Linked DNA regions of Homo sapiens: region 1 is linked to region 2. Evidence: fine-mapped expression QTL. A gene starts in region 2. The other region holds a variant in brackets. All regions are shown on one strand. Distances are from middle to middle. Region 1 overlaps TGFBRAP1 (transforming growth factor beta receptor associated protein 1). Region 2 holds the start of TGFBRAP1 (transforming growth factor beta receptor associated protein 1).

Evidence for each region. PIP is the estimated chance that this variant, and not a neighbour inherited with it, causes the effect.
Region 1: its variant is fine-mapped to the expression of TGFBRAP1 in whole blood (TOPMed, PIP above 0.99).

The regions. Positions count from the first base shown.
Region 1 is chr2:105,278,097-105,283,465 of GRCh38, reverse strand. It overlaps TGFBRAP1 (transforming growth factor beta receptor associated protein 1), which reads left to right. Exons shown (of 12, transcript NM_004257.6): 6 at 2,743-3,084. Among named protein-coding and RNA genes, the nearest start is that of GPR45, 39 kb to the right of the region's middle. The variant G/A (reference allele first, on the strand shown) is at 2,662.
Region 2 is chr2:105,326,686-105,332,054 of GRCh38, reverse strand. It overlaps TGFBRAP1 (transforming growth factor beta receptor associated protein 1), which reads left to right and starts at 2,320. Exons shown (of 12, transcript NM_004257.6): 1 at 2,320-2,430. It overlaps C2orf49-DT (C2orf49 divergent transcript), which reads left to right. Exons shown (of 2, transcript NR_187479.1): 2 at 1-526. RefSeq lists a silencer at 2,006-2,435.

The sequences.
Region 1 (5,369 bases), 49 kb after region 2:
CCCTGAATAGATATTTTCATCCAAGTAGTGACTTGAGCAGAATGCCTCCCTTGCCTGTTCTGTAGGAGGTCTGCCCATGACCAGCCACGTCCTTACATCCACGGTGGCTCTAATCTTTCACTCTATGCTGGATATTTGAAGAATGGCATTACTGAAAATGATTACAGTTACACAATCGGTTGTAGAGAATGGATTTCTAAGTAAAGGAGGAATCATTCCTTGAATAATGATGCCCCATATAACTTTTTCTTGTACAACTCTTACATGCTGTTCTCTGTTCTTGGAAAGACCCGTGGCTTCAGGGTTTAAGTCAGTTTTTTGCCCCTTTGGACCTAGGCTCTTTTCTGCCGTATCTTGTGTTAGCCCTACAGTGTTGAAGACCTCCTCACCGGGGTCATGGGTGTATCCCAAGGTGTCTTCTTTCTCTTATGGGTTAATCTGAAACATTAGGTGATTGTCCACAGATGGATTCCTAGAAGAGTCCTCGGATTTTGTAAGAGAATAGATGTGGGGCCTGTTATTAGGATGACATTCCTGTACTTCCGCACCTCACTCTCTTAATGGCTTAACTTTAAATTGCTGCTCGTCTTTGGTCCAAAGTGTGGCTGAGAGAACGGATTTTTTTTTTTTTTTTCGTTTTGAAGCAGCATCTCATTCTGTCTCCCAGGCTGGAGTGCAGTGGTGCAATCATAGCTCACCGCAGCCTCGACCTTCTGGGCTCAATGATCTTCCTGCCTCAGACCCCTGAGTAGCTAGGACTTCAGGTGTATGCCACCACGGGACCTGGCTAATCTTTTATTTTTTGTAGAGATGGGATCTTATTGTGTTGCCCAGGCTGGTCTCAAACTCGTGGCCTCAAGTCATCCTCTTGCCCCAGCCTCCCAAAGTGGTGAGATCACAGCCATGAGCCACTAGGCCCAGCCTGAGAATTGATATTTGAAGAAGATACTTCTAAGACAAAGATGATTCCACTTCCTTTTCTGTGCTCACAGCAAATGTTGCTAATAAATTGTGATTTTCTTTTCCTCGTTGAACTGGACCCGTCCTCTGACTCCTCAGTGCCGTGCCGGAGGCCACAGTTACCAGCTAGTTATGGTTGAAACTTAAGAGAAAATTGATCATACATAACCTGGGGATGTGGGCTCTGTGTCTCTTCCTTTAGACCACCTGCACCCTGTCGTTGTATCAGCTAGGTTCAGCTCTTCTTTCATTCAGCAAACGTGGCCTGAGCATCTGAGCAATGGATGGAAGGGTAACCCAGTGCCTGCTTCTCTGGCATGCCCATTCTAGCTTGGAAACTGGATGTGTGCCTTTCCTGCAGCACAGGTGCTGCTCTGCTGTGGGAGCGTTGCATGGGCTCACATCAGCCAGTGGAGGAATCTTCCCTGGATTCGTCCTGGATCTTAAACAATGAGCAGAAATTTCTCAAATCAAGAATTGTACTTTAGGTCAGGGATTCTCAGCTGTGGCACTGTAGACGTTTTGAGCCAGATAATTCTTTGGGCAGGGGGTTACTGTCTTGTGCATTACAGGGTGTTTAATGGCAGCAGCCCTGGCCTCTACCTACTAGATGCCATAGCACACCCCCGCCCCAGTCATGATAAAATTGTCTCCAGGCATTGCCACATGTTCCCCAGGGAACAAAATTGCTTTTCACCAAGAACCACTGCTTTAGGCCAGGAAACAACCACAGCAAAGGCTGAGAGTCATGAAATGTACAAACTGGCAACATAAGTGGGTCTAGTAGAAGTGTTGGGGTGTGGGAGGGATGCTTGAGGCTGAAGGTGTAGGGTAGCTTGAGATCAGTTTGGGAAGGGCCTTGAATGCCATACTAAGAGATTTGAAATTTATCCTGTGGGTTATACAAATCACTGGAGGTCAGGAGAGGCTGAGTGAAGTGGAAGGAAGGGCAGCCAGAGGTGGAAGCCAGTAGAGGAGGACAGCTGATCAGAGCTTGGATGAAGGAGGATGCTCTGAACATCGCAGGCAGCATGGATCCTGGGTCCTTCCTCGCCATTCCATGTGTCTGGGGTGGGGTGGCCCCTGCTTCTGTTCCCTCAGGAGGTTTTCCACAGCTGGGTCTGACACTGGGCCAGGTTTGAGATCCACAGCTCCTGCTCTGATTGTAGCCAGGACAAGGAGGTTCCGGAGAGGAGATGGGAAAGGAACTGTTTGTTGCATTACAATGTTAGGCTCTGAAATTCTACGAGAGTCCCCACAGAAATGGCCACATGAATATTTCTGTGTCTTCTGTTGTGAGATGTTGGTGAGGAAGTTGTAAGTTACTGTTTTTATAAAGTCCCTTCTTCAAGGACCATTCAACAAATCTGTTTGTAATTTAGTGCCAGGAAAATGCTGGTTTCAGCAGAGCTGTGATGGTGCCTTTGCGCAGACTCTGATGGCGTGTTATCCTGGGTGTTGCTTTTCTGCCTTGGTTTCCAGGCTCAGCTGGGTATTCTCTTCATCATAGGCATTTTGGTGTTCCACTCTCACACCAGTTCTGTATGTGTCTTTCACCTTCGTCCCTTCTGTTCTTTTTTGGAGCCAGGTGGCAGCACCCACTTGGATGGTGCTTTGCTGCACTTCAGATTAGAACGGTTGCTCTGACATGATTACCCTGTCCCCAGCTCCCCAGCCCCCTGTGAACGTGTGCCACCGTGC[G/A]CTCCCCTCCAGTGCTGTTTTGTGTGCCTATGTGTACTCTTCTCTCTTTTTGCTTCATTTAGTTTGACACTGTAATTGCAGAAGCGGCCAGCTTGATGTCCGGGAGCTGATCTCTCTCTACCCCTTCCTGTTGCCCACCTCCTCCTCCTTCACCCGGTCCCACCCTCCTCTTCATGAGTACGCAGACCTGAACCAGCTGACCCAGGGGGACCAGGAGAAGATGGCCAAGTGCAAACGCTTCCTCATGAGCTACCTGAACGAGGTCCGCAGCACAGAGGTAGCAAATGGCTACAAGGAGGACATCGACACAGCCTTGCTCAAACTGTATGCAGAGGCTGACCACGACAGCCTGCTGGACCTCCTGGTCACTGAGAACTTCTGTCTTCTGACGGACAGTGCTGCCTGGCTAGAGAAGCACAAAAAGTGAGTGTTCCCTTCCTGATATGATCAGGGCTTCCCGCCCTGCACCCTTACTGAGGCTCTTTGCTGGGGAGATCCTCGTGAAGTGACTTAGCCAGTGTGATGTTTATGTTCCCAAGTACCTATAGGTGACTGCCACGAAATCATAGTGACAGCAGATGCATGTGCTCCTCAGATGCCCTCTCTGTCTCCACCATCTGCAGACCCCTTGAAGGGGTCTTGGAGGGCATTTGTTCTCATTCCCATTCTTTAATAATTTGGAGTATAGTTTGGAACTAGTAATATGCTTTGTGAGTAAATGAAGTTAATTTTCTTTCTTTTTTTTTTTTTTAATGACTATTTTTTTTGAGACGGAGTCTCGCTCTGTCACCCAGGCTGGAGTACAGTGGTGTGATCTCAGCTCACTGCAACCTCCACCTCCTGGGTTCAAGCAATTCTCCTGCCTCAGCCTCCCAAGTAACTGGGACTACAGGTGCACGCCACCACACCCAGGTAATTTTTGTATTTTTAGTAGAGACGGGGTTTTGCCATGTTGGCCAGGCTGGTCTAGAACTCCTGACCTCAGGTGGTCTGCTCGCCTCGGCCTCCCAAAGTGCTGGGATTACAGGGGTGAGCCACTGCGCCCAGCCATGAAGTTATTTTTCAATTTCCTTTGTAGTCAGCCTCGTATTCACTTGTGGGAGATGCCACATGTTTATTGGTAAAATTTACAGTGCATTTTAGTTACTGACAACTGAATTGAATAGATAGCTAGATAAACAGATTCAAAGGGAGGCTTCTTGATTTTGTTGATACATGGTATGGTTTTAAACTCTGCCTTCCTTGGCTGGACATGGGGGTTCATGCCTGTAATCCCAGCATTTTGGGAAGCTGAGGTGGGCATATTGCTTGAGCCCAGGAGTTTGAGGCCAGCTTGGGCAACACAGTAAGATCTTGTCTTTACTAAAAATTAAGAAGAAATTAGCTGGGTGTGGTGGTTCACGCCTGTGGTCCCAGCTACTCAGAAGGCTGAAGCAGGAAGATTGCTTGAGCCCAGGAGTTTGAAGCTTCAGTGAGCAGTGATTGCACCATTGCATTCCAGCCTGGAGACAGAGCTAGACCCTGTCTCAAAAAAACAAAAAACTCTGCCTTCCTTATGTGCATGAGTTAGTAGATGGCCTTATGTATCATGGACTGTTAATGCATAGTGCCTGGCTTAGTTGGGGCCAGCAGCTTCTCCATTCTGGGCAGCTAACACATAGCCCAACCATTCTAGGCCTCACTTTTCTTATCTTTAAAAATGAGAGGGGTTGGGTGATCCCTCAGCTCCATTTACAGGATAAGATTTTTTCGGTCTATGATTTTCGTTAAGGATTTGAAATGACAAAAGCGTGGATGAACTCCCACAGAGACCCTGGGGTCACTGTGCTAGTATCTGAGATGTCAGAGCCTTCCACGTGGGTATTGGCCTTTTCAGCAGTTTCCATCAGCCACTCGGATATGCTATGGAATCAGTGTTAGTTTTTTCAGGAGCCAGAAAACACACTGCCACCTTATGGTAGTGACAAGGGATGGTGGGATCCGTAGAGTCAGCATGACTTTCCAAAAGGTTGAGGAAAAGAGAAGGATTCAAGCAGATGCCTCAATATCTTGAGAGTGTGCCCTTGGAGGGAAGATGCTTGACCCCTCACTGGTCAACTTACTCCAGTTTCCTGCTGGGAAGGAGGACCAGGAGTGTGGCACCCTTGCAGACTTTGGGAGGGTGCTGAGGGCTCACTGCCCAGGCAATGCCAATGCTATTGCCGATCTTTTCCATTTATAGGTGAGGAGTTAGAGGCTGGGCAAGTTAACCTACTTGCTCAAGGTCACGCGGGTTATAAATAATGAAGCTGGACTTGAAACCCAGGTTCTTGAACTCTGGGCACTCTCCCCCAGGACGCTCCCTGACTCTGTGGTCTGCGAGTCCCGGACACTAGCACTTCCTGCTGTTCCTCATGTTCAGAGCCCCTGCCCTCCTTCTCAGTCTCTGCTTAGGCAAAGTAGCTTCTGCATATTCTTCTAGTACCTCATGTGGGTTAATAGTAGTAGACCAAAGACATATGAAATTATATTAATATTTGAAGCAAATTGTAAAGCAACTCCAGCTGTGATTTTTCCATAGTTTACTTTTTCAGCTCATCTTAGATTGGAATCAGATTCTTTTTGGAAGTTGATAGAGCATATATTTTTAGTACCATAAGTAAATATACAGCAATGAGAATCCTTTGGTTGTTTGTTTGTTGTTGTTGAACTACACACACACACACACA
Region 2 (5,369 bases):
TTCTACATGCAGAAAGATACAGCAGAGAGCATAGACACAATCCTTGCCCTCCCAAGCGTATACCCAGCGAGAAAGTGAGAAGCACAGAGTATGTGTAAGCATAAAAATACTAAGTTTTGAGAGTAGACAGCAACTATGAAAATATTCAGTTATATCGATGCAACTCAGTCTTCATTAATTGTTCTCATCGGAGCACATCTTTTTCACATTCTGTAAAGTAACGCTCGGTATGGGCCCAAGGAATATTTAATAAATATTTAAAAATGAAGTTAATAATTGTTTTGAAAGCCATATGGTTGATATTTCTTCTTAAATGTAACCAATAGAAACAACATAAGGAATTTGGCCTGTGCATATATTTGCACATTTATGGTACAGGCATTTACATGGAGGTGCCTGTCATTTGTGACACAGACTTCTCATCAAGTTTCAGAAGGAACAGATGTTTCTAGATGGAATAATATGGAGCTTGCCATTGTAAGAATCCTGTAATAAATCCTTTCATAAAATAAATATATCTGAATTATCTCTTGTTATACATTTTCACTCCTGGATCATCTAAAGTAGAACACAAAGATTGTTCATAAACTATTCATTCAAAACAACTTTATATAAAAAGAATTACTGTTGCTGAATTCTGGATTCTTATTGTTGCTCTTTCTTACTAGCATGGGGTTTGGGACAAGTCACCTTTTTAAATTTTTTTATTTATATTTTCCTAAGTGAATTAACACAGGAAGTCATTCACCTTTCTTTGCCTCAAAGAATTAAATTTATTCTTTGACGCTATTAAGTAAATTAATAGCGTCTACTTCATTGCTCAGTCACTAGCAGTTTCTGAAGTCACTGTCTGGCAGTCAGTAGATATCACCTCTGTAACTAGTCTTGTGCAGCTCTCTGTGATGTGATCTGGTAGAGGACTAAGATACAAAAGCACAAGGGTGAATTCTAGGACCACCTGAGCCAGTGATTAGTTGATGACAAGTCACATAGTCTCTGTGAGCCTGGGTAAAATGAAGAGACTGGATTTGCTCTTGTACCTTCCCAATCCCTGGCTCCACTAGCTGTTGGCCACCTTAGACTTGAAGGTCCATTCACTGCTGCTTGCCCTTGAAGCTCAATTGCTGGTCAGAGCTTTACACTCCTGGGAAGCCAGTCCCCTACCTGGAGGCTGAGCCGGTGACACTGGTTCCACTGGGTCACAGCTGAAGCACCACTGGGGATGGGGCATTTATGTGGCCATGAGTCACACTAGGGTAGGGGTAGAGGGCAAGTCACAGGAAGATTGTTGGGTTTTTTTTTTTTTTTTTTTTTTTTGGCCAGTTTCTTTTCTTTCTTTTTTTATCCCTTTGAAACAGAAGACCATGGCGTACAATCTGGTATCTGCCTTCAGGGTTGGGATAATATCTTTGTTTTACAATACTCAGAGTGGCTGGAAGAAAGCTGAGGCCACAGGTCACTAGCAGGTTCTAAAGTCTGAAAATCCCTGGGAAAATTTGACTTTTTATATGCTAATAATTGAGTACTGACAACTCTGGAGGGAGCTTTCCAATTCTTCCGTCATGAAAGTGGACTTTGTATACTAAAGAGGGGTTCATGGATTCATGGTAACCTACAATTCTTCCTTGCGGCCTGAACCAAAGGAATAGCAGCTACAGTTGGGTTTTCCTAAAAGGAGTAAGATAGTCCCAGGCCTCCCTTCTCAAATAAGTGTATCAAGCAGGTGGACTCTGCCAGTCGGGGGTCCCGGTCAATCCCTAGGGCCCTGGGGCGCCATGGGCCTCGTGGGAGGGCTGCGCATCCCAACCATGCCTTCGTCTCCTGGTGGGGCACCGGCGGTACGTCCGATCCTCCAGCCCGCGTGGTCAGGCGGCCGCGGGCCCAAGCATTTCCCAGGGCCCAAGCATTTCATTCATTTATTCATTCACGCAGCAGGTATTTCCCGGGCGCCCTCCTCCTGTGTAGGTGACAGAAACTGGGTGGCGAGCGAGCCAGGCAAAGCCCGGCTTCCCTGAAGCTCCCCGCAGCGGCGGGGGCGGAGAAGAGACCTCAGCCCCGCGGGCTCGCACAGCTGGCGCGGACCACGCTCTCGCCCGGGGCCGGCGGCCTCAGCGCCCCCCGAATGAACACCTTCCGCCCGCTGGCCGCCCCGCGAGGCGGGCCGTGTCGTGGCCCCGGTGCACGGAGGGGGACGCCGAGGCCCGGAGCAGGGCCCGTCTCGGCCTGTGCTCGGAGCCAGGCGGCAGGGCCCGCGGGCCGGCGGGCGGCGCGGAGACGGCTGCGCTCCCGCCCTCCGCCAGCGCCTGGCGGCCGCCCCACGTGACGGGAAGCGGCGGCTGCGGGGTCGGGCCAGCCCAGGAGCCGCGGGCCGGAGCGGGGCGGCGGGGCCCCAGGCCGCGGGGCGGCGCGGGACGGCGGGCGCCGGCGCCGGTGAGTGAGGAGGGCGGCGGGGCGCGGGGTGCGGGGCTCAGGGCGCGGGGCGCGTGGGGCAGGAGGGCGGGGAGCAGGAGTGGGGGGTAGGCGGCGGGGCGGGGTGGAGGGCGAGCCCGTGCGTGTGCGCTGGGGCAGGTGTAGTGGGGGCTGGAACGCGGGGTGGGGGGAGCAAGTGGCTATACACTTGGGGGCAGGTGTGCGGGTGTGCGACTTGGTAGCTGTCCCTTGTGGGGGCCGGCTAGCCTGCTGGGGTGAGCAAATAAGTGTTCACGTGTGTGTGGGATGAAGTGTGCACGGGTGTGGGGTCAAGTGTGTATGTTGTGTGTGAGGAGTGCGTGTGTGTTTAGGGCAAGGGAAGACCTGAGAGACCTCGTCCTTGATTTGGGTTTTCCGGGGAGAAGGGCCAGGAAGGACTTGCACCTCCATCCCTGGTATGGAATGGTTTTGGCGCTGTGATTGAGGTTTCTGGGAGCTCTTTGGATTTGAGAGCTCAAATTCGGGTCACACTCAGGCCTGAATTGTCCTGATCTGGAGAGTAGGCAGGGGTGTGTTGGGGAGTAGGGAAAAGTGCTGTGCTGGGCTTCCTGGCCCCTGTTTTTAGCACCAGGTCAAGGGCTGGAAGCTGTCATCCCTGTGGAATTGTTTTCTTTCCATTGCCTTCTGGAGGTGCAGGTGCAAGTTAGTCCGCCTGCCTCCCTGTGTTAAGTGTTGATATCCTTAAACACGGAAGCTGTCCGGTTGTCTGCACCTGCCGTGGCTTCTACCCAAGGACTGTTGAGTGACCCTCAGGAAGCCTCCTACCTGGCTGCTAAAAATGGGGGCTCACAGATCACACAGCAGGCCTTACTGCACGTGGACTGCACGCGCAGCTGTGGTCAAAACATGTCTGAGCAGAGTTTAATCACTGATGAAGTGCTCATGGGCAAGCACCTTGTCTATCAGGAAGGAAGGCAGCTGCGGGTGTGATTGTGGTGGCAAGTTAAGGCACTGAGAAGGTGTGCAGGGAAGATCCTACTGCGTTGTGTGTGTTGGCTTGGTTGGAGTCAGGATGAACGAATGTAGAGGGACTGTGTGGTGGCTGCTACTCTCTCATGGTGGACATGCTTCTCTCTGTTGGTCAGCCGGAAGCTGGCAGACAACTGAGAGCTCGCAGTTCCATGGTCAGTCAGAAGGAACATTTGGTCAGCTGCTTCCTTTTCTTTTTCCTTCCATTTCTGCCAGCCGAGCAGCCTCAACAGTCATTGCAGCTGCTTCTGTGATGTGTAGCAAAACGCTGCCTGGAGTACTAGAAAGTCTACTGGCTGGAATCTGCTGGAACCTGTCCATAACTAGCCTGCCCCAGGTCATCTATGAAATGGGAGTGATGCTCTGTGGTGGTAATGAATGTGGAGTGTGGGTTCAAATCCTGCCTCTGCCATTTCCTGTGACCTTTGGGCAATTTGCTGGACATTCTGAGTCTCAAATTCCTCCATCAAAATAGGGATAATATTAGAAAAGGCACATGAATTCTAATAAGAAATTGTGCCTGGAAAGGATCCGGCACAGGGTCTGGCATTTAGTAGGTGCTCAATAAATTATTGCTGACAAATATAAATGAGGATGTAGAGCCAGGTCTCCCTCAGCTCTGAAAATATGTAGTTTTATGTTTTGAGTAATTGTTAACCTAACAAATGATTTACTCTGGAGTTAGACTTGTGGGTTCTGAATTCCAATTTGCTATGTGCATCAAGGTTTGCATTACACAATTGAATTGGGTGAGAGGTGAGGTGCCACTGTTAGCCTTCATTCACTCTGCCTTTTCTTCTACACTCATGATTGTGCATGGCAGTCCTCTTGTCATAGCATTGGAGGCAGAGCGTTTTCACCACTGCAGGAATCCCAGGACCAATCTAACCTCAGCTTAAACCCTCCAGAGACAGGGATTTGTAAAGGGCCCATTCTTCATTTAGGCAGCTCCAGTTGAGGAGTTTTAAAAGCATAGAGCTCACTATTTTAAAAATGCTATATTTTCTTTTTGTTGTTGTCTTCTGGGTGGTTTTTTTGCTGTTGTTTTTGAGACAGGGTCTTGCTCTGTCACCCAGGCTGGAGTGCAGTGGTGTGACCATGGCTCACTGCAGTCTTGATCTCCCAGACTCAAGGGATCCTCCCACCTCAGCCTCTCAAGTAGCTGGGACCACAGGCTCGCACTACCACACCCAGATAATTTAAAAAATTTTTTTTGTAGAGATAGGGGTCTCCCTGTGTTGCCCAGGCTGTTCTCAAACTCCTGGCCTCAAGCAATCCTCCTGTCTTGGCCTCCCAAAGTGCTGGGATTACAGACCTGAGCCGCTGCGCCCAGCCAAAAAACTTGCTGTATTTTCTGGGTCTGATATGCAGCTAACATTTCTGTTAGGAAAAAAAAAATGAAGTTATTTGGCTTATTCCTTCATGCTAATATTACAAATTTGTGATCTTTTAAGAAAACTTGAAGAAATTTTACTTAATGGGTTAAGTGTCTTCATCTTGGTCTGAATCCAGCCCTCATTAGAAATACATTAAAGTAGTCATTTGTGGCAGCCAGGTGTTTGGATACTGCCGAATAATTTGGCTCAGACTTTACAACTCATCTCTGTAGCAAACCTGACTCGTTTTTCTTTATTTAAAAAAATAAATACCTACTAAATGAATGTAGAGTAACAACTTAATTTGGTGCTACCCCAAATGACTTTAAGTGCCTCATGAAAAGTGAATTATGAAATCTTGCAGATGATTTGAAATCAAGATCTTTTCTTGATAGTCAAGTAACTGCTGTTGAAAAAGTTAAAGATTTAAGGAAAAAATCACATATTTAAAGATGACAACTGACTGGATATTATGGACTATCAAGTCCTGTAGGTACTCAATAATTTTTTTTTTCTTTTTTTGAGACAGGGTCTCACCCTGTCACCCAGGCTACA